Linked DNA regions of Homo sapiens: regions 1, 3, 4 and 5 are each reported to be linked to region 2. The links are microRNA targets in miRTarBase. Many come from high-throughput screens and were not tested one by one. Region 2 holds a microRNA gene; each other region holds the end of a gene's coding sequence.

Region 1 (6,570 bases), not on the chromosome of region 2:
CTCATGGCGTGGGTTGGACTTTAGGGCCCTGTGTGAAGTGGCTCCTGCCTGTGTTCACTCTCTCTCTCCAGCCCCCAGGGACCATCAAGATCCCTCACTGGCCTCTTTCCCTCTGAAATAATGGTAACTGCCTGTCTCTTTACCAGACCGTGAGGTCCAGGACAGGTGGGGATGGTGTATGTTTGGTTCACGTGGATCCTCTAGCACTGTGTTTGGCAAACAGTAGGCACTCATACTTGACCACTGTATGAAGGATGGATGGATGCCCACTAATCTGTGAAACTTGCTGTTGCCTTAGTGATTATTTCTAAGATCTAATTCTCACCCATTGTTTATCCAAATCAGATGTCATTGTATTAGACACTAAGCAAGAAAAATAAATAATGAAGTTATTAGAAAAAGCAAGACCAAGTCTTAGAATTCTATTATACATATAGGAAAAAAAGAATATATGGAAACATGCAAACTTAGAGAAAGTGCTTAACTCTAGGTATTGAAACTAAGAATCGATTAATTATATTGTGCAAAGAGAAGACTAAGGAAAGAGGGAAATGTGGGACATCAAGGAGTTAAAGATATTTTAAGCAGGGAAGGAAGGAGGCGATGGAATAAAGCAAGCCACTGTTCTAAAGAATGGGATTAATTAAATAAAGCATGGTACAACTGCTCAATGAAATTGTATGCACGCTGTTTGAAATCCTGTCTCTGAAGGTGGGGTAGTAGTGTCAAGGCTGACGCAGAAGAACTTTGGTGCTACCACATCCAAATGTCTCCTCAAACCACCCCAAAGGAACATGTCCTCTACATAACACTGATGTGCTTGCTGTGTATATTTGGCTCCCCCAGAAGCGAGCTTCCTCCTTTAGCCAGCCTGCAGCCCAACCCCCAGGTGGATGAAAGGATGGTGACACCTCGGTGAAGACGGTGACAGTATTTGTGATATAAGTGTCGAAATACTAGATTTATATAAGTTTGAAGGACAATGAGATTACAGTTATTCATTAAGAAAACAAATACAGAATTTATTCCAAAAGGTAAAAAAGGTGAAAGAAGATACGTAACATGAGTAGTATGGTTGTTGGAAGCATTTTTTCGTATTTTCACTTCAAAGTTTTAGAACTTTACACTTTCTTTGAACATGTACTGTAAAATAAAACAATGCAAAAATTGTGTTTTAAATATCAAATTAGCCATACTTGATTCAAATTATACCTGTATACAAGGAAACACTCATTGGTTCACACTGTTCTTTTCTCTCCTTCCCAAAGGATGTGCTGGGTGGCGTCCTGATCACCGCACTCCTCATCGTCCTCACCTACCCTGCCTGGACCTTCATCGACTGCCTGGACTCGGCCAGCCCCCTCTTCCCCGTGTGTGTCATAGTTGTGCCATTCTTCCTGTGTTACAATTACCCTGTTTCTGATTACTACAGCCCAACCCGGGCGGACACCACCACCATTCTGGCTGCCGGGGCTGGAGTGACCATAGGATTCTGGATCAACCATTTCTTCCAGCTTGTATCCAAGCCCGCTGAATCTCTCCCTGTTATTCAGAACATCCCACCACTCACCACCTACATGTTAGTTTTGGGTCTGACCAAATTTGCAGTGGGAATTGTGTTGATCCTCTTGGTTCGTCAGCTTGTACAAAATCTCTCACTGCAAGTATTATACTCATGGTTCAAGGTGGTCACCAGGAACAAGGAGGCCAGGCGGAGACTGGAGATTGAAGTGCCTTACAAGTTTGTTACCTACACATCTGTTGGCATCTGCGCTACAACCTTTGTGCCGATGCTTCACAGGTTTCTGGGATTACCCTGAGTCTCAAACAGTTGGAAACTAGCCCACTGGACATGAAAGCCAAGACATAGGAAAGTTATTGGTAGGCAAATCTTGACAACTTATTTTTCTTTAACAACAACAAAAAGTCATACGGCTGTCTTGCTACTACCAGATAAATGATGCTGCTGTGTGAAAGGAAGAACTGTCTCATAGCGGTCATTGGTCGTCCGTGGTGGTTGGTTGTGCTACAGTTGAACCCAGGCTAAAGACCATAATCCGGATCTTTAAAGGCACACACCGCGCCCCCCCCCCCCCCGCCCGGCCCCTGCTCCTCTCGCTGTTGCACGGGCTTTGGATCTAGTCATGGGCTGGCAGGAATTGTGGCCTGGCTTAGGAATAGCTATGAGCCCCACTGGGTTCTGGAGAGCCAGTAGAGATGGGGTGATCTGGGAGGCTGGAGGTAGAGCCTTTCTTTTCCGTTACAACCTTGCCTAGCATGGAGTTATTTCTAAAATGGGAACTTTGGTCTAGGAGAAGGGGTGGCACCATATGAAACGGCATTCCTTGGACAGGGTGACTTCCTTATCGTTTATTTGGTGATTTTTTGTTTTGTTTTGTTTGAGACAGGATCTTGCTCTGTTTCCCAGGCTGTATTACAGTGGCACAATCTCAGCTCACTGCAAACTCTGCCTCCCGGGCTCAAGCAATCCTCCTGCCTGAGCCAACTGAGTAGCTGGGACTGTAAGCATAGACCACCATGTGCCCAGCTAATTTTTGTAGAGACAGGGTTTCTCCATGTTGCCCAGGTACGTCTGAAACTCCTGGGCTTAAGTGATCCACCCACCTCAGCCTCCCAAAGTGCTGGGATTATAGGCATGAGCCACTGTGCCCGGCCTCCTCCTTGTTATGATCAAATTAGACTGTGCCTGGTTGGGTGGTAAGATCACTCTGAAAGAAAGCTCACTGTGAAGAGATGAAAGGTGGAGGCAGAGCTGTGAGGTCATGGGGAAAAGCCTGCTTTCCTTATAAGTCCTGCTGTTCATGTTGGAATAAGGATCTGCTCTTCCTTGTTTCCATGCATTTTGCAGGATTCCAGGTACCATTACCACACTCTTCTGACCCATGAAACCAACTGGCTGCTCACACATCACCAAACAGGTTGGGGGTTAGCCTTCAGCACAGGTGGATACATCTGGGATTCACTGAGATTCCTGCCCTCTCCTGCTTCCTAGTGGTTTGGGACAGGCCCTCTGCCCATCGTCAGCAGTTTTTTGCTTTCATACAAACCTGGAAGGCACTGGCATCTGCCTAGGAAAGTGGATCTGTGAAGAACAGATGAACTCAATCCTTTCTGGAGTCTGACAAAGAAGGGATAGGCTTCCTTGACATTGCCTGTCCTGACAAGGCCTCCCTGACATTACTCCTCCAATTTCACAGTTACCTTCTGTAAATCTATTTTCTCATCTACTGAATAGAATCAGGCGCCCTTTTTGTCTTCCCACCTCTTATCTCTTGGCAATTTTAAGGGGAATTAATGCAAGAACAACTTTAGTGTCTCTTGGGAAAACAAGCCAACCAAATACAAAACCCATTAAGCCTACTAGGGTGAGTCCTCTTAACATGGGAAGGCGATGATTATGCAAACACCGGAGTTCCCTCCTCTTCAGTTCCTAAGAATAAAGAACAGGTATCAAGAACTTTCTTTAAAGTTAGTGTAACTATAGTTAACAAAGTATCCATTGAAGTTTAGTGCCTGTAGGACTGAGCCAGTGCTTTATCAACCCAACACATCATCACCATGTGCATACTCTAGAAAAAAAAATAGCTTCCTTAAAAGTTACAGAGGCTCTTAACGTGTTAAAACCGAAAAATCACATTTTTCTTGATTTCAAATATGTTCTACGGCCTTACTGTTGGGATGATATTTAGTATGTAACTTAGCATTCCAATTTCTCAAGAATTTTTAGGCCGGGTGCGGTGGCTCATGCCTGTAATCCCAGCACTTTGGGAGGCCGAGGTGGGCGGACCACGAGGTCAGGAGATCGAGACCATCCTGGCTAACACGGTACCCCGTCTCTACTGAAAATACAAAAAAATTAGCCGGACGTGGTGGAGGGCGCCTGTAGTCCCAGCTACTCAGGAGGCTGAGGCAGGAGAATGGCGTGAACCCGGTGAGCGGAGCTTGCAGTGAGCCGAGATTGCGCCACTGCACTCCAGCCTGGGCGACAGAGCGAGACTCTCTCAAAAAAAAAAAAAAAGAATTTTTAGCAAAACATCCTGTTTTTACTTAAAATTCTTCTCATATTTATTATAGTTAGAAGGCAAAGATCAAGATGACCTGCCGTTTGACTGCTTTTACATCAAACTCTGCCCAGTATTTGCAGCACAACTCAGGGGAAGGGCCTTAGCTTACAGGTACTCCCAGCCTTCATCTGCCCCTGCAGAGCAGTGGCTGTCAGCCGGATGCGGCACTTTTCTGTATTTTCATCCACACAGCTGCCCAGCCAGAGTTCGCAACACTGGATATTTACACCAAATAATTGTGGTTGACTTGTCTGAAGCCAGCTGACAAAAGGATCAGCTTTTCCCACTTGTATTTTTTAAAAAGAGGGATTGTGATCATTGTCACAGAGTGGGTGCTGGCCTCTCATATATATGATATATATATATCATTTTATATATATATATATATCATATACATAATTTTTACTGCTGTCTCTAGTTTTAAGTCCCAACAATAGGAAGGCCGATCAGCTATATTGATATATTTAAGGCTGTACTTAACTAATTTGGGCTGAGGATGAATATATCAGCCACAGCACATTAAAGAATGAGCCAAGGATTTGTCATGGTTGGTCACTTTTTAAAGTATTTGATTACTGCAACTGGAGAATGAAAAGTGTATATTGGTGACGCCAACCTCAGTTTCTGAGCACTCCTGCTCTGTGGTGAGAATCAGACAAAAATTCATCGGGGTGAAAAAGGCATTACCTGATTCACACCCTTGTCTTGCTAGCCCTCTTCCATTCATTTCTCACACAGCACTTTGCTCTGTTAAATCCTCTCTCTGTCTCAGACCATTGCTTGCCCCTTCAAAGGGTATGGTTCAGGCTCCTTTCAAGACATTTGGAGTTTCTCTCTGGGGAAAGAGAGCCCCCTACTGGTTTGGCTTCAGTCTAGGTCCACCATCCCTCTCGATCTGGCATCTTGGAGATTAATTTAAAAGGCAAGCTCACCACAATGTAAGCCTATGGTCTGGCCAACCTTGCTTTTGGGAACTGTGACACCAAAGCCCCCAGGACTATCTGCCTCTCCAGGAGCCAGATAGAATGACATGCCTTTTTCCTAATTGTCCACATTCCACCCCCAACCCACTGCCACTGTGGGCCAAGCCATCCATCTTGCAATCTTCATCTAAAACAGCTCTCATTTCATGCCAGTTTTGCTCAAACCTGCACCGTCACAAGATATTCAGAAGATGAAAACGTAGAAGACACCCCTGAATTAAAAACACTTACATAGCAGTGGCTGGAATTACTCCAAAACGTGCCCAGTGATCGCACTGTAACATGGGATTTTCTCACCCAAATAGGCAACTCATGCTTCCTGAGTGTAATCAAAGCATGTGGTGTTTTGGGGCCATATGCACCAGGTTTCTATTTTAGAAACCTTCAGCTGTCTTGCTTATGTACTGTATGTAAATTTATTCTTTTTAAAAATCACTTTTATTTGATTTTGACTTATTAAATGCTTTAAAAGCCAGTGTTCTGTTTCCTTGCATTTTTTTCTTAACGTAGATCTTTTTCTCTGAATTCATTGGACCTGAGTTGAAAAGGGGACAAAAATAAGAGGCAGGCTACATAATTCTCTGTTCTTGTCATAATCCAATCATGTGCAAATGTTGGAGAGCCTTGGAGGACCCACAGGTGTGGTAACAAGAAAGAAGTGGCATGTTGGCATCCTTAAATCCCCTCCTCTACTCCATGATACTAAAGAACCTCCTTTTACTTTATATGGAGTTAAATGTCACTATGTTTTGAAAGGTAAATGTTGTAAGTTTTGCTAGTTAAGGTAAGTAAAAGGTTTTTAGAGATGCGTTCTCTATCTGCTGAACCAAATAAACATAACCGTCATTCAAATTCACAGTGTATCACTGCAATGATGTGGTCTGCCTTTAAGCATCCCAAATTTGCTATTTGAGATGGTACATACAGTTGACACTGCCCCTTATTTGCAAGGGCAGACCTAGGACTCTATTTGTACTTTGAGCAGGACATATGAGATGTAAAGCTCCAACCTATCCTGTGCAGTTTTCGCAGGACAGAGAAGACACAGGGGCAGAGAATTACAATTCAGGAGCCAAATGGTTAAGGCTGTAGGGAAGAGAAAACAACGACATGGGAACTGGGAGGAGGGGTAGACTGCATGAGCGAGGTTTAGAGAACAGATGGGGTTTGCACAGGGAATGTGACGGGAAGTAGGTAGGAGATGGTACTCCATGGCTAGAGAACAGCGTGTCTGAGGCACTTCCCAAACACCTCCAGCTCTTACAAGAAAAAAAACCAGACCACGTTGGTGATCGTAAGAATAACAGTGGTGGTGGTGGTGGTGAAATAAAGGATGAGCATAGGGCTGTGACACCGCAAAATCAAACCACACGAACAAGAAGTGTGAGAAGGCCCTCCCAGAGGGGGTGACGTCCAGAGGTGACTTCACAGACTCCTTTCATCACTCCTCATTCAAATACAGTTGCCCCTTGAACAACTCGGAGCTCAGGGGTGCCAACCTC
Region 2 (6,570 bases):
GGAGCTAAGCTATGGGTACACAAAGACATACAGAACAGTATAGGGGACACTGGAGACTCAGTAGCGGGTAGGGCTTGAAGGGGGTGAGGGATAAGAAACTACATCTTGGGTACAATATACACTACTTGGGTGATGGGTGCACTAAAATCTTAGATTTCACCATTATACAATTTATCCATGTAATCAAAAACCACTAGTTGGTAAAAAGAAGTAAAAAGAAAATTGACAAATAAATAAAAAACAAAGGAAAAAATTACTTGTACCCAAAAGCTACTGAAATAGAGTTTCCCATACAAAATAGGGAAAATTTAAATATATTTATGTAGTATTATGGCATTAGTCCCTAAACAGTAAAATTTTAATAGCTTAGGAAACCTTTGTTTGCTTAAAAAATTTTTTTTCAAGTTTTTCTCCCATAGGGAGTAGACTGACAAAATATGGCCATATTTTTCTGAAACAAATTTGATCCTGGTATTTCTGAATCAATATATGCTGGCAGAATCTCCTAAAGCAACAGTGAAAAACTTGCAATTCATGCTTATTTTTAAGAAACTACAGTAGTCAGGGAGACAGTATTACTATTCAAAGTCACTTCTGACCTCTTCATCCCTCTACCTCTCCATTGGCAAATATTATTATTGCATGAGTAAAAATATGCAGTAACCAACCCCTCCTTTGCCTCATAGGACATACTGCTTTCTGTGAATGAGTTCCATTCGCTCACAACAATTAACTTGTTGTTACTTGATGATCAATACATGAATTCTGAATATTTAAGTATCTTCAACTATAGCAATTTTTTTAAAAGAAGCTTTTCTTTTCTAGTGTATGGAAGAAATGGAATATAATTATGTAAGTAAAGTACCTAAATAGTACCTTAAAATATAATTTTACATGATCAAATTAATATAGAAATAATTACAAAGAATTATAAAGTACAAGGTTATCTCAAATATAGGTGTATCAGTATAAATGACCCAAATAAATGTATTGCCAACCTCTAAACCACTATCACTAACTTTAAAAACTCTTACTTTTATTTCAAAGATGCATCAAATGGTAGAAACATCACTGAGAAACATTTATTGTCATGCAGAATCTGTACTATATGAGCTAATTAGAAAAAAAAGTCTAATGGGAAAAATGGTCATCTGTCACGTGACAAAAGCAAAGTACAAAAACTATAAGAGTACGGTCCCAAATATCTCAAAACAATTACACATAAAACAAAAAATCCAGACTATTCACAAGTAACAGCTTTTCAGGATAAGTAACATTATTGTATAAAATCTCCCTCTTCCCATAAAATGTATATGTTCAAATGATGCTGGCAAACCAACCTTACAACATGCAGGTTCTGAATGTGTTGCTTCAGCACAACTGAATGTCTAGGATCCCCAGACATTTACTGTATGTCTAGGATCCCCAGAATACACCCAATACATACCAACTGGGTGGATAATATGCTCACATAAAAACACACTGACATGTAAAGATATATATCTATGGATTATGCAAGTATATGGCATTTTTATTTTCCATATTTTTAAGTTTTCCAAAATTTTCTATGCAATCTATAACTTTTATTATCAGAAAAACTGCAAATCGACATATTAAAAATGGAAACCCAGAATGATTCAACCTAAAAAACTTAGAAGTAACTAAGAAAAACTTAGAAGTAAGTAAACTTTAGAACACAGTGAAAATGTGTCTATCATTTTTCCCTGGATAAATTTTATTATCATTACTTTGTATCCTATTTATTATTAAATATCTTCTCAATGCCTTTTAAAAAGTCCTCAGGCTCAAAGATCAAAATAAAAAACAAAATAAAAACGATTTTCTAATTATAAGTTTTTCTGGATTACAGTAATAAGATGTTAATTCAAAATAAATATAGTATCACCACTTGTAAAGAAAGTTACCACTTTTAGGATAAAGTTACTTTGAATTTATAAAAACAGGAATAATAAAACATTTTGGAACTTACAGGAAATCCTTTAGTGATAGGAATTTCAATATTAAAGATGAGGATTCGGGCTCTGAAACGAGTGCAAGCTTTAATGGGTACTTTGGGGCCACAAAATATGCAGCCAACACTGTAAGAACAACAAAAAAAGAGGAAAGGTAATTGGGGGACAAATTTACATCAAATAGAAAGACCTCAAAAACATTTACAAGGAAAGTAAAACAATTAAGTAAATTAGGGACTTTTTCTAAATATTCTCTTCTGAGCTAAAGCATGACTTTAAACCATTATTAACCTTATGTCATTTTTATACATTAGAGCTTTCACTCAAAGCACATGCCAAGTATGTGTGCTGACATGTATTAATTCAAATTTTAAGTAAGTTTGCTTACATTTACACAGGTGTCTATTTTTGGTCAAATGAAATTCAAAATTGAACTAGCAGGTTGCAAAATATATGTGTTTAGAGGTGAGGTCCTATATGAAGACAACGGTTGCTTAAACTCATTTTCTCACTCACTTGATTTTGATGATATCCATCCCAACCAAAGTAAGACTAACATGATCGCCTGCTGCCGCCCAGTCGACAGGTTCATCATGCAGAGTGATTCCTGGAAATGAGTAAGAACCAAAGCATACAGTGAAACACCTCGATATCAAACCATAACAACCAACAGAGTTTGGCTGATTTGTGCTTCATCAGTCACTACTCATCATTTTCAATATGAATGGATTGAGAGTAAGAAGTGTAACTGTGAGCGTTGAGGAAAACACACTTCCTCTAGAACTGACTCTTCTAGAATACCACCCTAAACATAAAGTGACTTGTATTTGCCCATAAAAGGCTGACTTCTGCTTATTTAATCAAGATTTTTAAACTAATTGACACAATTGGTATATTCATTAAACAGGCCCCATTCAAATATTTCTATCATATTAATGGATACAGACAAAATAAAACACAGTTCAAATTATTCATAATGACATAAAAGATGGGCTGGAGAAGATGTCTAGCAGTATTTTCTTCTCGAGTTTTGCTTTTAATTAGACAACCACCTAAACAAATAATCCTTGTTTTCCAAGTAACCCATGGGACATGTACACTCAGTCAGAATTTCAAGCGGTCCTCTCAGCAGGCCCCTTAACTACTCCTGGCTCAAAAGAACTTCTTTCCAGAGAGAGATCTGCATACTAATGACTAGTTATATGAAAAGAAAAATATTAAGGAAATAGTGATAAGAAAATTTAATTTTAAAATGATCCTAGGTGTTGCTATATATCTAGAGATATACATCTATTTACCTAGACATAGTCCTGAAGGTAGTCGGAGAGAGCAGTTCCCAAGGGCAATACTCAGCTACCTTACTCAAAGGCTTTTAAAATATATCCCATATTTTCTGATTTTATGGAATACATTTATGGATTAAGTTCCTTTCCATAGAAATGTAGGCCTTTTGACAAAGAGAATGTGTAGGCCAACCACTGTGGATAGTTCTTGATTGACACATTGACATGTTCTTAGTAAATTATAATCCACCCATATCTTTCTGAAAATACTCATTTTCTATGCAGCAGGGAGAGTTTCTGACTTTTAGGGAGCTCAAGGATTTAACTTTAAGAGCTCTGAGACAATCTAGAGTTTCATGCAAAATATCATGTATGTGCACATCTGCATTAATCTGAGAAAAGAAGGCATAACTTTCTTCAGGTATCAGAGATTCTTCCTCCCAAACATGTTAGCAATTATCGTATTAAGGAATGTTTGTTAAATATCAACTTACTAGATTTAATTTTAAAATGTAAATTTAGAATGAACATATCTGAATTTTGCTATGAAATATGGGATTAAAAACAGAAGCTAGGTATTTACACACAATAGAGATTGACTTTGGCTTAAACATTTGTAGATGTTTTATACTACAAGTTCAATTAACAGTATAAAATTTTCCAAAGGTAATTATATTCTCTGGTTCTTCTTCCCCTCAATCATGTTACACTGTTCCACATATGACATTTATCAAAAAACTTTTCTCATTGGACAAACATTACAAAAAGAGGCTCTTTTTTAATACTCTATGAGCTTGATATGTTAATAAAGTAAAAAAAAAAAAGTAATTTAGAATTTCTATTTGTTGGTAGTAGATTCAGTCAAGTCTTTCTTTTGGGACAGTACTGGTTAAAGAGCCACAGTAGTACCTAAAAATGTTTAGACAGAACAGTGCTTTCAAGAATCAAGTAAACCAAGCAAAAGCAGTAAGGTTAGAATGGAGGAAGGAGAACCTCTCTGTTGAGTTAAAAGACTGGCTCTCAAGAAGTAGGGTGGTTCTTCCCTGGGGCTTCTGATAAGACTTACACTGATAAAAGATAATACTTTAGAGTTTCTCTGTGTGGAAAGTACAGAGAAGAGGAGGGTAAAGAATGTGAGACTTTCAGAGATGACTAAGGATTTTAGAGGTTACAAGGGAGCCAACCTCAAGGTCTGTGATAACTTTAGGATCATGGTTTTAATTTATGGCTCTTAATCATAAAAAAATTCTTGTTCTCAAAAAAGATCATTAACATACCAAAAAAATCGTGTTTCAAAAGTATTATAGCTCTTGTCACTTTAAAAAACAAAAGCAGAGACCTGTACTTGCACACAATGAACAGATCTATAGAAAATGACACTATTTTTAAAGTGCATATTACTTTTTATCAAAACTGAAATTTCATGATCTCTAGTGGGCACAAATAAAAAGGTCAAATGGAAATAACTGATTTTCATTCCCTTATTCATCTTTAAATATAGGTTAAACCATGTAACTTCAATAGATATTAATTTCTTAAACTTTTCAAGAAATCTTCTTTTAAAGAGAGCATATGAATTCAAGAAAAATATACATTCAAATTGATAAACTAGTCAGGTACAACTCTAGATATAAACTATAAATTAAGAGTAACAGAGGGAAAAATACTAAAATCTAAAAAATTTTTGCATTTCCAATAGGTTATACTTCAGCTTAAAATGGTTACAAATAATATTATTTTATAGTATAAAACAGATCTTCAGAAGTCAGAGGCTTAGTTGGAAGCCAGAATAAAAGAGGTATAGAATTAGAAAGTTTTAGTCAAAATCTGGAAAATAATATACATGTACATGTAACATATAACATGTATACATATACATAAATATATATATGTGTGTATATATTAGAAGACAGAAACAATTATCAGTCATTATGAAAAAAATTAGATCTATATGCAGAAACAGTGACTGGCAATTTAAACTAGTTCAATTTCTCTTTTCAACATTGGGTTTTTCTCCATTTGAATGTTACTTATATCTTCCTATAAAATATACCTACATTTTTGGCATAAACATGATCAAAGCTGTTAATTTATAGTTATTCTGAAACATACATTTCAAAGTAACAGACTGTAGAAGGCTGCTTTGCCACTGACTAGTTAGGGTAAGGCTGGGACTAGATTTAATTTCTGCTACAGAATATTATTCCAAATACATCTGTGAGGTATCTATACATATCTGATTAAATCCTAACCAGGCTTCTCAGATCTGTGTCAAAAATAGAATGCTACTACAGTTAGAATGTTTATGTACATATATATACAGACACAATCACAACAGAAAAAAATCGTTTAATGTTTTCACATTTTAATCTTCAACAGTCAGTATCATTTTGACAGTCAGTTACAATTTCAGTAAGAGGTTACTTACTTTGGAGTTGTAACTAAACCACTTTTTAAAAATCTGCTGTCTCAACTTAAGGCTTGTTTAGCAAAAGCATCTTGCAGATAAATACCTTTCACGGTACAAGTTTCATTAGGAGGCATTGCCAGTAGTCGGTCACCAGTTTGGATATAACCAGCTTCTATTTTACCAGTTATGCAAAATCCAGATCCTTGATCTGCAAAACATACCAAAATCTTATGGTTCATACAGCAATGTTATCTGATGATTAATACCGTTAACTATACTTAGTTCTCAAGTAGTCATATAAAACTAGTAGTTCAATGGACATTAAATAATAATCATTTCAGAATTAACATCTCTACTAAATATGGCATACCACACTTTACTTTTTTTTTTTGCAAATAAAAATACTCATATTACCAAAGAAAGGTTCATTCCTTTCTCAAATATTTATTGAGAAATAATAAATACGTAGTACCAGATATTATACTAAACTCTGGGGATAAAAAAAAATAAAAATGTAAGTCCCTGCCCATAAAGATATTATACTAGTGAAGAGAAAGATGGAAACAATTACATTGTCCTGAGACAAATAATATGTAAAATATACAATAGAAACACAAAGGTGCACCAAAGAATCCATGATGGTGAGAATAGACATCTGGCACTCTGAAGAAGGAATAAGTGTTTATTAGGTAGCTTGTATGCATGAGTAGGGAGAAAAAGGAAGACACTGCTGCCCCAGGAAACTGTGTGGGCAAAGGCATAACCAAATGTGGGATGGGCTAAGAGTCATGTGTCACTTGTGGGGGCCATGGGGAGGGGACCATATAGAATAATGAAGAAAAGGTAAGACAGGAGGCAACAGAGATAGGCAAGGGAGAAATAATAAAGGGGTCTCATAAATCAC
Region 3 (4,000 bases), not on the chromosome of region 2:
CTAGTGAAGCCATCTGAGACCAGTGCTTTGTTTTGGAAGCTCATAATTGATTCAATTTATTTTATAAGTTTATGCAAGGCAGTTATTTCTCCTTGTGTGAGTTTTGGTAGGTTGCGTCTTTCACAAAATTGGTCCATTTCATCTGTTATCAAATTTGTACACTCAAGAGTTGCTCATATCATTCCTTTATTATCCTTCTAATGTCCTAATGTTCACAAGAAGAGTAATAATGGCACCTCTTTTCATTTCTGATTTTAGTAATTTTTGTTTTTTCTTTTGTTATGGTAAAAGTTTTATAAATTTTAACTTTTCATTGAATTTCATTTGTTTCACTGAATTTCTCTATTGTTTTTGTTTCAATTTTATTGATTTCTACTCTATTTCTTCTGCTTACTTTGGATTTAATTTGCTTTTTCTAATTTCCTAAAGTAGATGCTTATTGATTTTAGATCTTTAACATTTTCCAATATATGCACTCAATACTATAAATTACCCTCTAGCCACTGCTTTTGCTGCATCTCAAAAAAATTTTTTTTTTTTTTTTTGAGACGGAGTCTTGCTCTGTCGCCCAAGCTGGAGTGCAGTGGCACAATCTCAGCTCACTGCAAGCTCCGCCTCCCGGGTTCAGGCCATCCTCCGCCTCAGCCTCCCAAGTAGCTGGGACTACAGGTGCCTGCCATCACGCCCGGCTAATTTTTTATATTTTAGTAGAGACGGGGTTTCACCACGTTAGCCAGGATGGTCTCGATCTCCTGACCTCGTGATCCACCCGACTCGGCCTCCCAACAAGTGCTGGGATTACAGGCATGAACCACCGCTTCCAGCCGCATCTCACAAATTTTGATAACTTGTAGTTTCATTTATTTAGTTCAAAATATATTTTCTCGAGACTTCTTTGACCTATGTGTTTAGAAGTGTGTTCCTTAATCTACAAGTATTTTGGGATTTTCCAGGTATTTTCATTACTTATTTCTAGTTTAATTCCTTTGTAGTCAAAGACATAGCTTCTATGGTGTCTTTTTTGAAAAGAATAAGTTAATTACCCTTTTATCACCATATATTGCCTCTCATTTTCCTTGTTCTGAAGTCAGCTTTGTATGAAATTAATATAGCTACTCCAGCTTTCTTTTGATGAGTATAGTTTCATATGTTAGTCTATCTAGGCTACCCTAACAAAACACCATACACTAGGTGACTTAAGCAACAGAAATTTTCATTTTCTCAAATTTCTGAAGACGAAGTCTGGGATCAGGGTGTCAGCATAGTCAATTTCTGGGGAAGGCTCTCTCATTTGTAGACAGCTACCTTCTAGTTGTATCTTCACATGGCAAAGAGAGCAAGCTTTCTGTGTCCCTTCTTATAAGGGCACTAACCTTATGTTAGTCAGGGTGCCACCTAACCTTAATATCTTCCAAGATCCTGTCTCCAAACACTATCGCACTGGGGGTTAGGGCTTCAACATATAAATCTGGGGAAGAGGGGAACATGAACATTCAGTCCATAACAAATGATGTATCTTTCTCCATCTCTGTATTTAAAGTGGATTTCTTGTTTAGTCGTTTTTTAATGCACTGTGGCAGTATCTGTGTATTTAGACAACTCACATTTAAACTGATTGATATAAATTACTATATTTGTTAATGTTTTCTATTAATCGATCTTTTGTTCTTGTCTTCCACTTTTCTGCCTTCTCTAAGTTTAATCCAGCATCTTGTACAATTCCATTGTCTCTGCTCTCTTACCAGGATTAAACAGATACGAACAATCCACCATCATGTGAATTGGCTCTCTGATTATTGCAAAACAAGATTCATTAAAATGGATGATCTTCTGGACACAGTCAAATGATGGAAGAGAATAATCATAACGTAACATGAAAAATAATAGCATGTATCAAATAGTGGTTACCCCAAGGCAGAGAGGACCTGGATAGGAAATATCAAACGAAATTTCAGTTTTATCTGTAGTATCTGCATTTTTTGTATAATCAAAAATAAGTTAAAAATTTTACATCTCTACATGCTAAAAAAAAAGCAAGATTCCATCAAAACAAAGTTGTAGGATAAACAATAAACTAGGGAAAGTATTAAGAATATTAAAAATAAGCTATTAGCAACTTTTCACTTACTAATTTTTGAGTCAACATGTCATAAAATGCAATAAAGTATTTGATACACTCCATTTAGCAACTGGAAGCATATTGACATACCCCATATAAACTTTTAGAAGAATACAGTCTATTGGTAGGCATTGCAAGCATAAGGATTACTTTTTTTTTTTCTTTTGAGACGGAGTTTTGCTCGTCACCCAGGCTGGAGTGCAGTGGCGCAATCTTGGCTCACTGCAACTTCTACCTCCCAGGTTCAAGCGATTCCCCTGCCTCAGCCTTCAAGTAGCTGGGATTACAGGTGTGCACCACCACACCCAGCTAATTTTTGGTATTTTTAGTAAAGACAGGGTTTCACCATGTTGGCCTGGCTGGTCTCGAACTCCTGACCTCAAGTGATCCGCCCACCTCGGCCTCCCAAAGTGCTAGAATTATAGGCATGAGCCACCGTGTCTGGCTCAATTACATATTTTTAATGTTTTAATTAGCAAACACCAAAAGTGTTTTGCTAGTACTTCACGGACAACAGTACTACCTGCTCTGAAGAATTCTTGTCAGACCTACACTGCCATTTCTTCCCTCTCCAGTAACTTCAAAGAGTAAAAAGTTGCTCACTTCTTCAATATCCAACTGCAGTATTCTAGGAGGTACTTTATATATTATCCTCCCCTAAAAGAGTTACGTTCCCTAAAATATAATAGTATTTGTATTTTCTACAGAGGGATTTGGTATACTTCAAATATTTGTTTACTTTAGAAAATATGAAGTAATTAAGGTAAGCCAGAGACTTGGATAATATACAGTAGAAAGCGCTTTCAAGTAAAAAAATAAACAAATTTATCTTAGAAAACTAATGATACTAAATGGATTTAGGATTCTCTAGTTTAGCTTGTTATGTAATACTAAATGAGTCCTATATCTTAGTTTATCGGCCTTTAAAAAACATTTGCTACTTATAAAAATATCCCACATCACTAATAGCTAGAGATTTTCAGAAATAATTTTATTTACAGAAAATTCACAGAGGATTAATAAAATGTCATGAATACAATTTTGTTGGTAATAATTAGCAGAATCAAGAGTAGATTAATATATAAGGTAACATGATATATTAATAATACAAACTAAAATATCAATTTTATGCTAGCTTTATCCATTAGTTTTTCATATTCCAATTTTAAACAAATCTAGAAATAAGACAGTATATATGAAACAAATTTGCTAAATATTTTTAAATTATGCCACCTCAGATATTACCTCAATTTTAAAACCATCTGTAAATTAAATGACCTTCCCATTATAATTTCTAAATATAAAGAAGCACCAGCTGGAACTCAAAATGCATAAAAGATATTGTTATATATTTTAAGAAAATATTATATTAGCAATATCATAAATCAACAAAGAATCCAAAGAATATTGCATGAGGTAAGGTACATTAAATGTTTTATGCCTAGAATATTATCTACCTGCATTCTTATCCATATAGTTTAAAACACTAAAGCACTCACTGAATAAGAAATGACCATTTAAAAATGAATAATAGATGGCAGCACATGCCATTTTGCAATAAAAGTAAGATGGCCTATGCGCATTAATTTGCAAATAATGTTTTTTATCCAAATAGTCCTGTGGTTCCAATATCCTTGAATGATAAGAATTTTTACTGTGTGAAAAAAGAAAACATCCTTTTACTGATGGAAAGCTTCTAATCTTATTCGGGTTGGATCTTCTGGATGTCTCAAGGCAATTCCATTACGCAGCAGCAGCTCAACATAAGGTGGCCAAAAGGAATCACTAATTTTGACATATGGATCATGTGGAACATCAAATAATCTATTTATAAGAATCTAGGAGAAAATATCATTCAAAATATACTTTACTTGGGAAAAA
Region 4 (6,570 bases), not on the chromosome of region 2:
AACAATGAGGATATCTCCTGCATAAGACTGTGGGGGAGAATTGACTGATAAAACTGAATGATGTCTGGCACTCAGTAAATACTCAATAAACGTTAGCTATTCTTCACTATAGACTTGGGGCTACAAGTCAGCTAAATGTTTAGTTTGGACCATAGGATTTAAGTATATTTGAACCCTTCAGGTGAAGCATGCATTTCTAGTTGACCATACCTTCCTCTGCCTCCCCAATCTGTTTTCTACACCACAGCTTCTCAAATTTATGTCATCTGCCTTCCACTCTCTGAAGTTTTCTTTTTTTGAGACAGGGTCTCGCTCTGCCACCTAGCCTAGAGTGCAGTGGTGTAATCATAGCTCACTGTAATCTCAAACTCCTGGGCTCGAGTGATGCTATCACCTCAGCCTCCTGAGTAGCTGGGACTACAGGTGCCTGCCACCACACCTAGCTAAATTTATTTTTTGTAGAGATAGGGGTCTCACTATGTTGCCCAGGTTGGTATCAAACTCCTGGCCTCAAGTAATCCTCCAACCTTGTCCTCCCAAAGTTTTGGGATTACAGGTGTGAGAGCCACCACACCCAGTTTTTACTGGCATTCAGTAAGTCTCCAAGGTTTTTAAAGGATAAAAATAAAGCAGGTTTTGAAATTATGTATCGCCCATTATCATGGCAGCTCTATGTGTCCCGTATGCACTACACAACTCCTGGATGTTGTTCACAGTTTATCAGACTTATGAAGCCCCCGCAGGGTTGGGCAATATACAACCTGCATATCTGTACATGGCAGCCTGGCCCATATTTTAAGGGGAATTTTCAAAGATTTCACAAGATGTATCCCTTGCTCTCACAACATCCACCTGTAGGATCAAGTTGGGTGGTGTGGTATCACTAGTTTATACATGGGGTAAGAGGCACACAGCTAGCAAGCCAGAAGTGGGACTAAAGCTCTCGACATTCAGACTGGAGCTGTGAAGGACCGAATCATCATGTCTCTGCTTGGTACCAGGTCAAAGGCAAGTTTAGGACTTCAGGATTTCCAGAGGCCTCCCAGAGATCATCAGGAAAAAGTCCTAATAGAAATTACTACTTTTATAACAAAACTACAGGTGGCACTAGGCTGGATAATAATGCATTACATGCATGTAGAACTACATATGTTAAATGTTTCAAAAATAAAAAGCAAAACAAACATGAGTCTGACCACCAGGTTAATAGCTGAGGTCTTTATTTCAATTTCTATATACAGTAAAAGTGCTGCTGAGAATCTGCAGCGACCAGACAGAACATAAATTTAAATCTCTCTCAACAATTAGCAGCTTAAGATCTATCAACTACAGTGTTAACGTTCACACGTTCACAAGTGTCATTTCTTTACGTTTCAATTCGTGCAAGTGAGTTTTTATTCTTACACACTTTGATAAAACACACAGTCTAGTAGTCAATCCCTACTGAGGATATCACCTAGCATACACGACATACAGACAGCAATGTTAACTCTTAGAGCCACATTCAAAATCCCAGGTTTCATTTGGGGTTGGGGTGTGGGAACCATAATTTTGCCTGTGTCAGATTACAATAATGTTTGGTTTTGTTTTAGTTGCATATTTTCCAAAGCTGAAAGGCAGCTCCTCATTGGAACTCTCTCAGAACTCAGCATTTTCATCTGACTGTACCTCAAAGGAACATGAAATCAGAAACAAAACCAAATGCAGTGAAGACCACATGAAAATACGCTCATTATTTGGACATGGCTAGTGAGGAAGGCTCGCTCCCAATATTTGTCTTGGCATCAGACTTTTACTCCATTCAGAACAGGGGAGAGAGAAGACCCTAGTCAGTGAAGTATAAAATTTAACCTACTTTTGCTTCTTAAGGAGCCAGTAGAGTGGAAAGCCTTCCTTACTAGGACATACTGAGTATACCAAGGAATGGAAATTGGAGCAGACAGAAGTACCCTTCAATTATCATAAACAATGTAAAATGCGCATTCTACAACCTGAACAATCACCCAGGCCAACACAGCCAGCTTCACTCACCCAGGCTAGAGGCATGGACAAATAAACCAGGAATGTTTCATTTTAAAGGGAATGAATACAGTTTTCTTTTCTTTTTTTTTTAGAGGAGCATTCAAATGAGGGGACGTTTCCACCCAGAACAACTGTTAAGCCATTAGAGCGAGGTTATAGAAGAGCTCTGACAAGACAAAAGAACCCAAGAACAACCACAATGAAAGAAACTCAAAAGTAACAGGATGGGCAGCAAAAGGTACAGCAAAGAATGAAAACAGATGCATGGTTACAAACAGCATTAAATGCGTACAACTTCTGGGTCTGGTGAATAATTAAGGGACAAGAAAGCCATTACTGCACCTGATCTGCACTGAAGGTCCTTCCTAAGACAGTTTGAGAAAGGAAGATAGAAAGTCAGCATGGGACTATTTGGCTGGAGGCAGGGGGCTTTCTACAGGTGAAAACCTTCCTTTGATAGATAGAAACCGTCCCAGGGCAAATAGGAACAGTTTCAATCCATCTATCAAAGTGACTTCCAGTGCCCACAAAACTTAAGTCTTCAGGCAGTTTGGGGGACTCAAAGGTTCTAGCTTAGAAAAACTGGTGGATTGCTGCTAGGGCATCTTTTAAATAACTTTGTGGGGGCTCTCTACTCTGAGCAATTACGCTAAAGCAGAAAGTTAGGAGAAACTGTCAGTTCAAAAAGTTCATAGTGTCCTTTGGCACTCCTGCCTAAAAAGTCACTGCAATATTTTTAGGCAAAGTTAACATTTTAATACATATAGGCTTGGGGACAATTTGTTTTTGGCATGAACATGAATTGGTTCTAATTTTTTTTTTTTTAAAGAAAAAAAGCACCCTTGTGGCCCTGCTCTGGGTGCAGTTTTGAGGGGGCAACAGAGCTAGCAGGTGTACTACAATCAGCTGAGGTTGGGGTGAAGACTGGAGTACCTGAGTTAAAATATCAAAGTAGTTATGGAAACAACATGCTGGCTCTGAGAAATCCAGCTTGCCAAAGCAAAAGGAGGCTGGCACCATTAGGTAAACTGTCCTTTCAGACAGGCAGGGCAATGCTAATCTAGTTCTGAAGGAATTTCCTGGTAAGTGGAAACAGGCAAAGCATACTTTGTTACTCTTTTCAGGGCATCTTATATGCACTTGGTTGCACAGAATGAGGCTAAGAGGGAACAGCATTTGTGACCAATACTACAAATAATATGGAAAGATTAACCAAGCTCTCTAGATAAACTCTAAATGTTCAAGTTCCACCAGGATGATGGAACTGGTTATGCGACGGGGGAAGGCAGCTCAGTTCATTTTTCAAAACCATCTATAGAAGTCCACTGAGCATAATTAGGTTAGGTTAACAAGTCCGTTTACATTATAGGAAGCTGGCAACATTTCACACCCAAAACTTGGGTCCTGCTAACCTGACATTTCCTTCACTGCTCTTTAGGAGAATCACCTTTGGTTGATTCTCTTAGGCAGACAGAATAAAGCTTTGAAATTAAGAATGCTGGGGCCAAAATGAAGACAGAAGACTCCACATCATCACTTTGGTTGTAATTAGGGGTGTTAACAAAATAAATTAAGGAAACACAAGGACTTATTTATGACTCTTATAGTCTCAACTTTTCCTAAAGACAACCCCAGCCCAAGATCACTGGGTGAACGTTTTCTTGGGGCAAAAAAAAAAAAAAAAAATCCCTATCCTACTACACTGGTTTTTGGAAACAGCCTCCTGCTCTCCTTGCACAACCCTTTCCTCTTCAACTAAGCCAAACCCATAAAACGGGGGCGTAGGTATGTCGGGACACCAAAAAGCAGCAGCAGCAGCCAGAGGGAGTTTAAACTGCATCTCAAAACAAAGGCGGCAGAGGGCAGCATTTACAGCAAGACTTTCTTACTCAAACTGTTTCAAGACAAGAGGGAGCAGCACACTTAAATATCCACACATTTCTTCATTTAAAAACATCACTTCTTTATTTCAAAGGAAAAATAAAAGACCCTCCCAACCCTGTCCAAAAAAACCCAATAATAATAATAACAATAATAAAAAATCCTATTAGAAACCATAAGGAAGCACTGAGAGTTTGAGTATTACATTCTTCAAGTATGCTGTTCGGATTTTTTATTTTTAGGTTGGTAACTATACACATATAAAAAAACCTTAAAAGTGCGGCCAAGGGATTTTGCTTAAAATTAAGTATTTAGAGGGCTACTTAAAAATACTGTAGTAGGACTGTGCAGTGATCCTTTGGGGGATGATGCTTTCACTTTTGTATCCTCGTCAAGGTTAAGGGGCAGGTTCAAAAGTGATCATACTTCCAGGATTAGCGTAAGTGGCCAACTTGGGTGAGAAAGCCAGAGAGATCCATGTGTTCTTCCACGGACAACGAAAATCCACCCCGAATCCAAAAATTCAGACATGGAATGTGGTAGGATTTCACAGTAAAGTTAGTCTGGGATAGGGAGAGGTGATGAGCCCAGACAAGGCAGGGTGTTAGGTTTAACTGGTTTGCCCTCATCAGGTTTTCGCATCTTTTTAGTGGGTTTTAGTGCAGTCCTTCAAGCCACAATTTAGATTGCCCTTCGGTGTGCTCCAGATTGTTGGTTCATATTAAAGGACTGTTTTAAGATTTGCATCCCAAGGAAAATCATGCTACATAAAAATGATCCAAGATTTTCGCCCAAAAAACTTCTTGGATAAAATCTAAAAAATACTATTGCAATTGCGTCTCTTGAAGAAAAAAACATTATTCTAAATGTAAACAGATTCACTCAACTCTTTTTTTGTTGTAGAAAACTTCAGAGTAGGTAAGTTGCTGTCTAACTCTCTGCTGCATGCACTCGCCAGAGGGTAGGGAACAATGCCTTCTGTGCCAGCATCATCTAGGGGATGAAAAGAACCGTTCCACATAGCTGAAGAGGGCGTCCCAGTGCTTCCAGAGAAAGGCAATAAAAACCACAAGGAATAAAGTGCTGAACGTCCTGTTGCGAGTCTTCATGAGGGGGACCACACAGTTGGCTACAGTGGAGACAAAGACCAAAAGGACTGCCATGACAGCCAGGAGGATGTTGATGAGTTTGCCCAGAAGGTTCCGGGCAGTGGCATTCTCCAGCCCTTCTAGCTGCACCACCTGCTGCTGCTGCTGCTGCAGCTCCATCTTGGAGATGCGCGTCTGGCATGCCTCCAGGGCCTCCTGTGGGCCAGAACAGGGAAGAGTTAAGCCTTCTGCTCACAAGTATTCTGAGATGCTGACATGCCCCCTGGGCAAGCCAGATGCATCTTGAGCAATGCCAATGATTTTATAAATATGCTGGAGCCTTGAATGAATGTAAAAGGCTAGATGTATAACTCACTATTCAAGTGATTATTATTCCCCCAAATTGCCCTCCACTGCATTCCAGTGGGATGAGTCACAGGAAGCAGTGGCCACACTTAACATTTATTTAGTCTAGAACATTTTAATGACAAGACCACAAATATATGCTCTTTTTTCATTGAAAATTAATCTAAGTTGCACAGAATATATTTGTTCAACATAAAAAATTTCAAATAGGATAGTCTCTCTTGACATTTCCTTCAATTCCAATCCCTGTCCCTGAGGCAGTACTGTTTGTGTTCACCCTTTTATGTGTGTAAGTGTATGCATATATGTGTCAAGGAAAATATACGGAATTATTATTTTTATTTCCTATCTGTAAACTAAAAATAAAATCCTAAGACCCCCAGCCAAATGAACGGACTCCCTCTTGGCCAAAGTGGACCCCAAAGAAACCTGAAAAAGTGAGTTCTTGGCAATGATGGGAAAGAGGCTGGACATGCCTTATTATATCCCCTCCCTTTTTGAGTTGTGGCACAAATGACCAGCATTAATGTGAAAATAGAGATCATAAGACTGACAGAATGGACTCTTTGTGGCAGTAAGACATCAAATTATAAACAAGACCTAAGGCCATGCCAGACAAGGTTAAATCTCACCCTATAAACCATAAAATCTCATCAGTTTTTAAAAAAATTAACTGGTGTTAATGTGGCTTTCTTTCCAACCTGACTCAGGTATAGCATCACATGACAGACAACAGACTCCGTTAACTTAGGCATTTTTGTACTGGCTTCAAGTCTTTACACAAAGCTTAACTCTTTCAACCGACTGCCAGCTAAAAAATTCCTAAAGCCCACTATGACTTGTTAGCCCCTACTTAGAGATGGCCCACCTTTTTGGGCCAAACCAATGTATACTTTCCATGTGTTGATTTAGGATTTTACCTACAATTCCTGTCTCCCTGAAATGTATAAAGCCAAACTGTAACCCAACTGCTTCAGGCATATTTTCTCAGGACCTCTTCAGACTGTGTTCCCCAGGCCATGGTTACTTGTATTGGCTCAGAATAAACCTCTTTAAAATATTTTACAGGGTTTGGCTTTTCCAAACATGGAATAGTATCACACTATAGGAATCGATTCACAACTTGCTTTTTTTTTCATTCAACAGTGGGTCTTGGTGATCTCTCCATGTCAATACACAGAATCTACCTCATTTTTTTTTAACTGCTGCCTGG
Region 5 (6,570 bases), not on the chromosome of region 2:
GGATCTTTGCTTTTATAATTTTATGTCAGTTTGTGGTTACTTAATTGCCATAATCTTTTGTCATAACTTTACAAAAACAAATTCAGATGAAGCTTAATGACAATTTGTGACCAGTTATAAAATTATGGCTTTGAATTTTCTTAATCGGTAAATTTTACACATGTAAATTTTTATTCTTTAGCTTTATTTGAAGGTAGACGCATCGAATTTGCAGAACAAATAAATAAAATGGAGGCTAGGCCTAGAAGACAATCAATGAAGGAAAAAGAGCATCAGGTGGTGCGTAATGAAGAACAGAAGGCGGAACAAGAAGAGGGTAAGGTGGCTCAGCGAGAGGAAGAGTTGGAGGAGACAGGTAATCAGCACAATGATGTAGAAATAGAGGAAGCAGGAGAGGAAGAGGAAAAGGAAATAGCGATTGTTCATAGTGATGCAGAGAAAGAACAGGAGGAGGAAGAACAAAAACAGGAAATGGAGGTTAAGATGGAGGAGGAAACTGAGGTAAGGGAAAGTGAGAAGCAGCAGGATAGTCAGCCTGAAGAAGTTATGGATGTGCTAGAGATGGTTGAGAATGTCAAACATGTAATTGCTGACCAGGAGGTAATGGAAACTAATCGAGTTGAAAGTGTAGAACCTTCAGAAAATGAAGCTAGCAAAGAATTGGAACCAGAAATGGAATTTGAAATTGAGCCAGATAAAGAATGTAAAACCCTTTCTCCTGGGAAAGAGAATGTCAGTGCTTTAGACATGGAAAAGGAGTCTGAGGAAAAAGAAGAAAAAGAATCTGAGCCCCAACCTGAGCCTGTGGCTCAACCTCAGCCTCAGTCTCAGCCCCAGCTTCAGCTTCAATCCCAGTCCCAACCAGTACTCCAGTCCCAGCCTCCCTCTCAGCCTGAGGATTTGTCATTAGCTGTTTTACAGCCAACACCCCAAGTTACTCAGGAGCAAGGGCATTTACTACCTGAGAGGAAGGATTTTCCTGTAGAGTCTGTAAAACTCACTGAGGTACCAGTAGAGCCAGTCTTGACAGTACATCCAGAGAGCAAGAGCAAAACCAAAACTAGGAGCAGAAGTAGAGGTCGAGCTAGAAATAAAACAAGCAAGAGTAGAAGTCGAAGCAGTAGCAGTAGCAGTTCTAGTAGCAGTTCAACCAGTAGCAGCAGTGGAAGTAGTTCCAGCAGTGGAAGTAGTAGCAGTCGCAGTAGTTCCAGTAGCAGCTCCAGTACAAGTGGCAGCAGCAGCAGAGATAGTAGCAGTAGCACTAGTAGTAGTAGTGAGAGTAGAAGTCGGAGTAGGGGCCGGGGACATAATAGAGATAGAAAGCACAGAAGGAGCGTGGATCGGAAGAGAAGGGATACTTCAGGACTAGAAAGAAGTCACAAATCTTCAAAAGGTGGTAGTAGTAGAGATACAAAAGGATCAAAGGATAAGAATTCCCGGTCCGACAGAAAGAGGTCTATATCAGAGAGTAGTCGATCAGGCAAAAGATCTTCAAGAAGTGAAAGAGACCGAAAATCAGACAGGAAAGACAAAAGGCGTTAATGGAAGAAGCCAGGCTTTCTTAGCCATTCTTTGCAGCAGAAGATTTCTTGATAAAAAAGGATTACCTTTCCTTGTAAAGAGGATGCTGCCTTAAGAATTGCATGTTGTAAAAAATCTTTTTGGAAAATACAGACTGTTTGTTTACCAGACATTCTTGTACTTTTTGCATAATTTTGTAAGAGTTATTTATCAAAATTATGTGAGGTTCCAAAATATGTAAAAATGATAATAATAAAAAAAGATTAACATCCCTTGTCATCTTTTTTAAATATCCTATACTCTTCAGTAAGAATCTGTATATTTTAATAGGCAAATCTTTAAGTCTGTTCCCTTCTAATTCTGTATCATACATTGCTTTTGTAGAAATAAATGTGTGTTTATTTCATTATTTTTGGGATGTCCTCGTTGACACTTGTATAATAAATATCCTCTTTATCATTTTCAGCTTTTAACACTAGATACTGCACGTGATTAGAATGTTTTTGAAGGTTTCCTCGTTTTTATTTGCCTTGGACAGTTTTTAGTTGTCAGAGTCAGAGCTTTGCAGCTTTGAGGGGGAACAGTTCTCTTTAAAATCATTTGCTATTTTCTATTCTCCCTTGTTATTTTAATCTAAGCATTTTCCCCCGTTTCTCATATTTTAACCATATGTTCGGTAGATAACTAAACAGTATGATCTGGTTGGCATTTTCTTCCTGATGATGGGAGCGTCATTCTTTTGTCTTCATGGTTACTTGTGTGATATAACATACATCTGTTAAAGAAAATCACTTCTTTCTAGGGGAGGGAGGTAGAAAAGTATCTTTCAAACTTGGTTTTTGAGTTTGTGTCTTGTCTTAACTTTGTGTTGGCTCTAACTTAAACATGCTGATATGTGTTTTCAAGAATTTTGTTTAAGGAAGTATTGTATGGAAGTCCACAAAATGAAGGAAGTTCATCTAGGTTTTAATATGTAAGCAAGATAACACACAAGTGTACCAAGTGATTATTAACTTTGTTGTTTTACAAATTTGTATGAACTTGGAGTATCTGTTGGCCATTACTATACATGTGCAAATAAATGTGGCTTAGACTTGTGTGACTGCTTAAGACTAGTACTTGTATTAACTTTCTGATGCTTTATACAAGAGAGCACTTAAATTGCATCCTTCTTTGAGTTTAACACTGTAGCTTTAGCCTTGACTTTGAATATTCATTTTGCCTTCCCTTGACAAGTAAATGGTTACAGTGAAAATGTGAAGAAGTATTTCCAGTTAGTTTTTGTGTGTATATAACTCACTTGTGTAAGTGGATGTGTTAAAAGATCTCTTTTTAAAAATCCTTTTATTGGAGTAATTATTAAAACAGTAAATGCATAGAGCTTTGCACAGCAATCTGTATCCATGAGCCAGTTCCACCACTAGTACCTTCATCTGTGGCTTATCCAGCAAAATGTTTCATTTCCTGTGTGCCCTGGCAGGAAAGAGGTTGGTAAATAGTGAATTAAAGGGATGATCATAAAATTTAACCTGGTTAAAAAGCACCTTATTTGATGACAGTTTGTATGCACTAAAATCCTTTATACAAATTAAGTTTTGTCTACTGATTTGTACCTGGAAAATCTGAACAATATTCATGTTGCTTACAGAAAAGGCTAGTATTGGCTTGAAGCTCTACTATAGGAGGGGTAGTAATGGGGGTATAATGAATGCTTGAGGGGAAAGTAATTTTCAGTAATTTCAGTTAAGCGCTACTGATCATAGTATGTGAAAGGAATTTTTCTTATATGGAATGCTTGATGAATTTGCATGTCATCCTTGTGCAGGGGCCATTTTAATCTTTTTTTTTTTTTTTTTTTTTCTCGGAGACAGGGTCTTAGTCTGTCACCCAGGCTGGAGTGCAGTGGCACAAACAATCTGACTGCAGCCTCGACCTCCTGGGTTCAAGGGATCCTCCCACCTCAGCCTACCAAGTACCTGGGACTACAGGTGTGCACCACCATTCCCAGTTAATTTTTTATTTTTTGTAGAGACAGGATCTCACTATGTTGCCCAGGCTGGTCTCGAACTCCTGGGCTCAAGCGTTACTCCTGCCTTGGCCTCTGAAAGTGCTGGGATTACAGGCGTGAGCCACCACTCTTGGTCTGTGTTCCAATTTTAGTATGTGCTGCTGAAGTGAGCACAGGAATTTTAATAACAGATTGTACTAACATTTTTAAGTGGTATTCATTTTTAGGTTGGAAGGTTTAATTTTTTAAATATAGTATTTTAGATTTTTTTGTTTCCGATCAGTGCTTTATCCTTGAACTAAAATTTTATGGAACTTAATGTTCAGAGAACCATGGAATTGCACTTGAAGAGACACAAGGAAGAAGAATGTAAAAGTAATGACAGTTTCCCAGGGGGAAAAGACATGCAGTAGTCTTTTTTTTTTTTTTTTTTTTTGAGATGGAGTCTCGTTCTGTCACCCAGGCTGGAGTGCAGTGGTGCGATCTCGGCTCACTGCAACCTCCGCCTCCCAGCTTCATGCAATTCTGCCTCAGCCTTCCAAGTAGCTGGGATTACAGGCGCACACCACCACACCTGGCTAATTTTTTTTTTTTTTTTTTTTTTTGTATTTTTAGTAGAGTTGGGGGTTTCACTGTGTTGGCCAGACTGGTCTCGAACTCCTGACATCGTGATCCGCCTGCCTTGGCCTCCCAAAGTGCTGGGATTACAGGCATGAGCCACGGCGCCCGGCTAACACGCAGTAGTCTTCCTACTGGAGATTACAAATTAGTGTTTATGGTTGAGTGCAGTGGCCTGTAATTCCCAACACTTTGGGAGGCTGAGGTGGAAAGATTGCTTGAGCCCAGGAGCCAGAGACCAACCTCGGCAACATGGCAAAAAACTGTCTACGAAGAGAAAAACTAGCCGATTGTGGTGGCATGAGCCTGAGTCCCAGCTACTCTGGAGGCTGAGACAGGAGGATTGCTTGAGCCCAGGAGGTTGAGGTGAAGTAGCTATGATCACACTACTGCACTCCAGCCTGGGTGACAGAGTGAGACCCTGTCTAAAAAATAACAAAAAAACCCAAATAGTGTTTATGGAAAACTTAGGAGCTGAAAGGGGATAGAGATGGTGAGTTAGGACTGAAATCAGTTTAGAGCTGTATTAGGAAAGACAGGCTGGGTGCTATGGCTCACACCTGTAATCCCAGCAATTTGGGAGGCTGAGGGTAGAGGATGGATGGCTTGAAGCCAGGAGTTCAAGACTGACCTGGGCATCAGCAAGAATCTATCTCTACAAAAAATAGAAAAATTTAGCCATGTGTGTACCTGTAGTTCTAGTTACTTCGGGGGCTGAGGTGGGAGGATTGCTTGAACCCAGGAGTTTGAGGTTATAGTGAGCTTTGATGGCACCACTGCACTCCATACTGGTGACAGACTGTCTAAAAAAAAAATTGGCAGAGATGTCTAAGGGGCTATTAAGGAAACATCTTTTAAGATACCAAGGTTTGGGTAACCACCAAAATAAAGATAGTTTGAACTTCAATGAGCTGTATTTCCAATCTAGGGTCCTTCTACACACTATCTGTAGAATGATAACAATTTACATGATTACTCAGGTAATTTGGGCAAAGCAAAAGCCACCATACCAATAATGTATTGACATAAATTCAAAAGGAAAGAGAGTAGTGATTACATGGGCCAATGCTATTAGAGTCAGTCAAGATGTGGGTTTAAAGTACATAAACAAGAATTTCTTTTATGGCTAATATTGTGTAAGAATTTTTTTATGACTAGTCAAACTTTAAAATATCTTCTGAAATCCAACGACAAATCCAACCCATTTTCCCTTTTTGAGGTTAAAATGAATGTTATTAAATCACATAGCCCAGAAAATGTAGCTATGTATTTGATTCAATACCACTACTCTAGTAAGCCAGTGGGGTAGAGACTACAACTTGGTAAAAATAAACGAGGTATCTGAGAATGTTTTTCTTACGCCTGTCTTTGTCTCAGCTAGCAGGACTTTTTTTTTTTTTTCTTTTTTTAAATAGAGATGAGAGTCTTGCCCTGTTGCCCAGGCTGGTCTCGAATTCCTGAGCTTAAGCGATCCTCCCATTTTGGCCATCCTAAGTGCTAAGATTACAGGTGTGAGCTACCATGTCCAGCCAATCTTTTCAAAAAAGGAACTTAAATAATTATACTAAAAAAAATGATGATACTCAAATGCCTGCAACTCCACTTTCCATGGCCAGTTGACTACCCTATTCAAATTTGTAATAGCTGCCACTCCTTGCCATGACTGTCCCAAAATCTTTGGTGTTGGCCGGGCACGGTGGCTCATGCCTGTAATCCCAGCACTTTGGGAGGCTGAGGCGGGCCCCTGATCATGAGGTCAGGAGATCAAGACCATCCTGGTTAACATGGTGAAAACCCCGTCTCTACTGAAAATATAAAAAATTTAGCCAGGCGTGGTGGTGGGCACCTGTAGTCCCAGCTACTCGGGAGGCTGAGGCAGGAGAATGGCATGAACCCGGGAGGCGGAGCTTGCAGTGAGCCGAGATGGCACCACTGCACTCCAGCCTGGGGGACAGAGCGAGACTCCATCAAAAAAAAAAAAAATCCTTGGTGTTAAGTGGCTTGGTCTCTCTTTCCCACTTTCTTTCCTCTCTTTCAGCACATCCAAATATGTTTGAAACAATGAGCCAAGTCACATCCTGAAATTTGTCCTCGTTTTCTTCCAAATAATGGAAACAACAGTTTCTGTGACATTTTTTGTAAATATTTTGTGTGCTGTGCAGCTAAAGGGTGACCAGAGTGCTCCTTGTACATAGTAGATCTGAAAAGGAGTATGGAGGAATCAAAATTATTTGGGGCTCTTTGTCAAATTACTCAGCCTTTTTGGAGATTTCAGATACAGCCCAACCCTTTAAGAATCTTTGTTGTCTTAGTGAACTAGTGTTACCTCTTTAAATATGTTATATATCTCTTTTGATGGATGAAGAACAAAGTTATCTAGGAACTGAGATTATATAATGAAGATTAAAAAGGGCTTTTGTTTC

What was found. The annotated mature microRNA hsa-miR-3662 reads GAAAAUGAUGAGUAGUGACUGAUG and lies in region 2 at 2,667-2,690, opposite strand. An mRNA with a match to its seed (bases 2 to 7 or 8) in the 3' UTR can be bound and repressed. Matches are read on the target gene's strand: a 7mer-m8 pairs with bases 2 to 8, a 7mer-A1 pairs with bases 2 to 7 and ends in A, and an 8mer does both.
Region 1: miRTarBase lists SGPP2 as a target of hsa-miR-3662. Seed matches in the 3' UTR shown: 8mer at 4,451-4,458.
Region 3: miRTarBase lists CENPK as a target of hsa-miR-3662. Seed matches in the 3' UTR shown: 7mer-m8 at 3,640-3,646 and 7mer-A1 at 3,140-3,146.
Region 4: miRTarBase lists TMCC1 as a target of hsa-miR-3662. Seed matches in the 3' UTR shown: 7mer-m8 at 4,674-4,680, 7mer-m8 at 3,529-3,535 and 7mer-A1 at 1,972-1,978.
Region 5: miRTarBase lists PNN as a target of hsa-miR-3662. Seed matches in the 3' UTR shown: 7mer-m8 at 1,978-1,984 and 7mer-m8 at 2,735-2,741.

The regions. Positions count from the first base shown.
Region 1 is chr2:222,557,079-222,563,648 of GRCh38, forward strand. SGPP2 (sphingosine-1-phosphate phosphatase 2) reads left to right here. Exons shown (of 5, transcript NM_152386.4): 5 at 1,269-5,543. The coding sequence ends at 1,820. Among named protein-coding and RNA genes, the nearest start is that of FARSB, 96 kb to the right of the region's middle.
Region 2 is chr6:134,976,689-134,983,258 of GRCh38, forward strand. MIR3662 (microRNA 3662) reads right to left here and starts at 2,744; the gene lies at 2,650-2,744. It overlaps HBS1L (HBS1 like translational GTPase), which reads right to left. Exons shown (of 18, transcript NM_006620.4): 13 at 5,770-5,874; 14 at 2,490-2,580; 15 at 1,991-2,099.
Region 3 is chr5:65,514,677-65,518,676 of GRCh38, forward strand. It overlaps CENPK (centromere protein K), which reads right to left. Exons shown (of 11, transcript NM_022145.5): 11 at 3,090-3,957. The coding sequence ends at 3,799. Among named protein-coding and RNA genes, the nearest start is that of ADAMTS6, 35 kb to the left of the region's middle.
Region 4 is chr3:129,646,589-129,653,158 of GRCh38, forward strand. It overlaps TMCC1 (transmembrane and coiled-coil domain family 1), which reads right to left. Exons shown (of 7, transcript NM_001017395.5): 7 at 1,204-5,207. The coding sequence ends at 4,893. Among named protein-coding and RNA genes, the nearest start is that of PLXND1, 43 kb to the left of the region's middle. RefSeq lists a silencer at 5,018-5,312.
Region 5 is chr14:39,180,322-39,186,891 of GRCh38, forward strand. It overlaps PNN (pinin, desmosome associated protein), which reads left to right. Exons shown (of 9, transcript NM_002687.4): 9 at 182-2,899. The coding sequence ends at 1,542. Among named protein-coding and RNA genes, the nearest start is that of PNN-AS1, 7.7 kb to the left of the region's middle.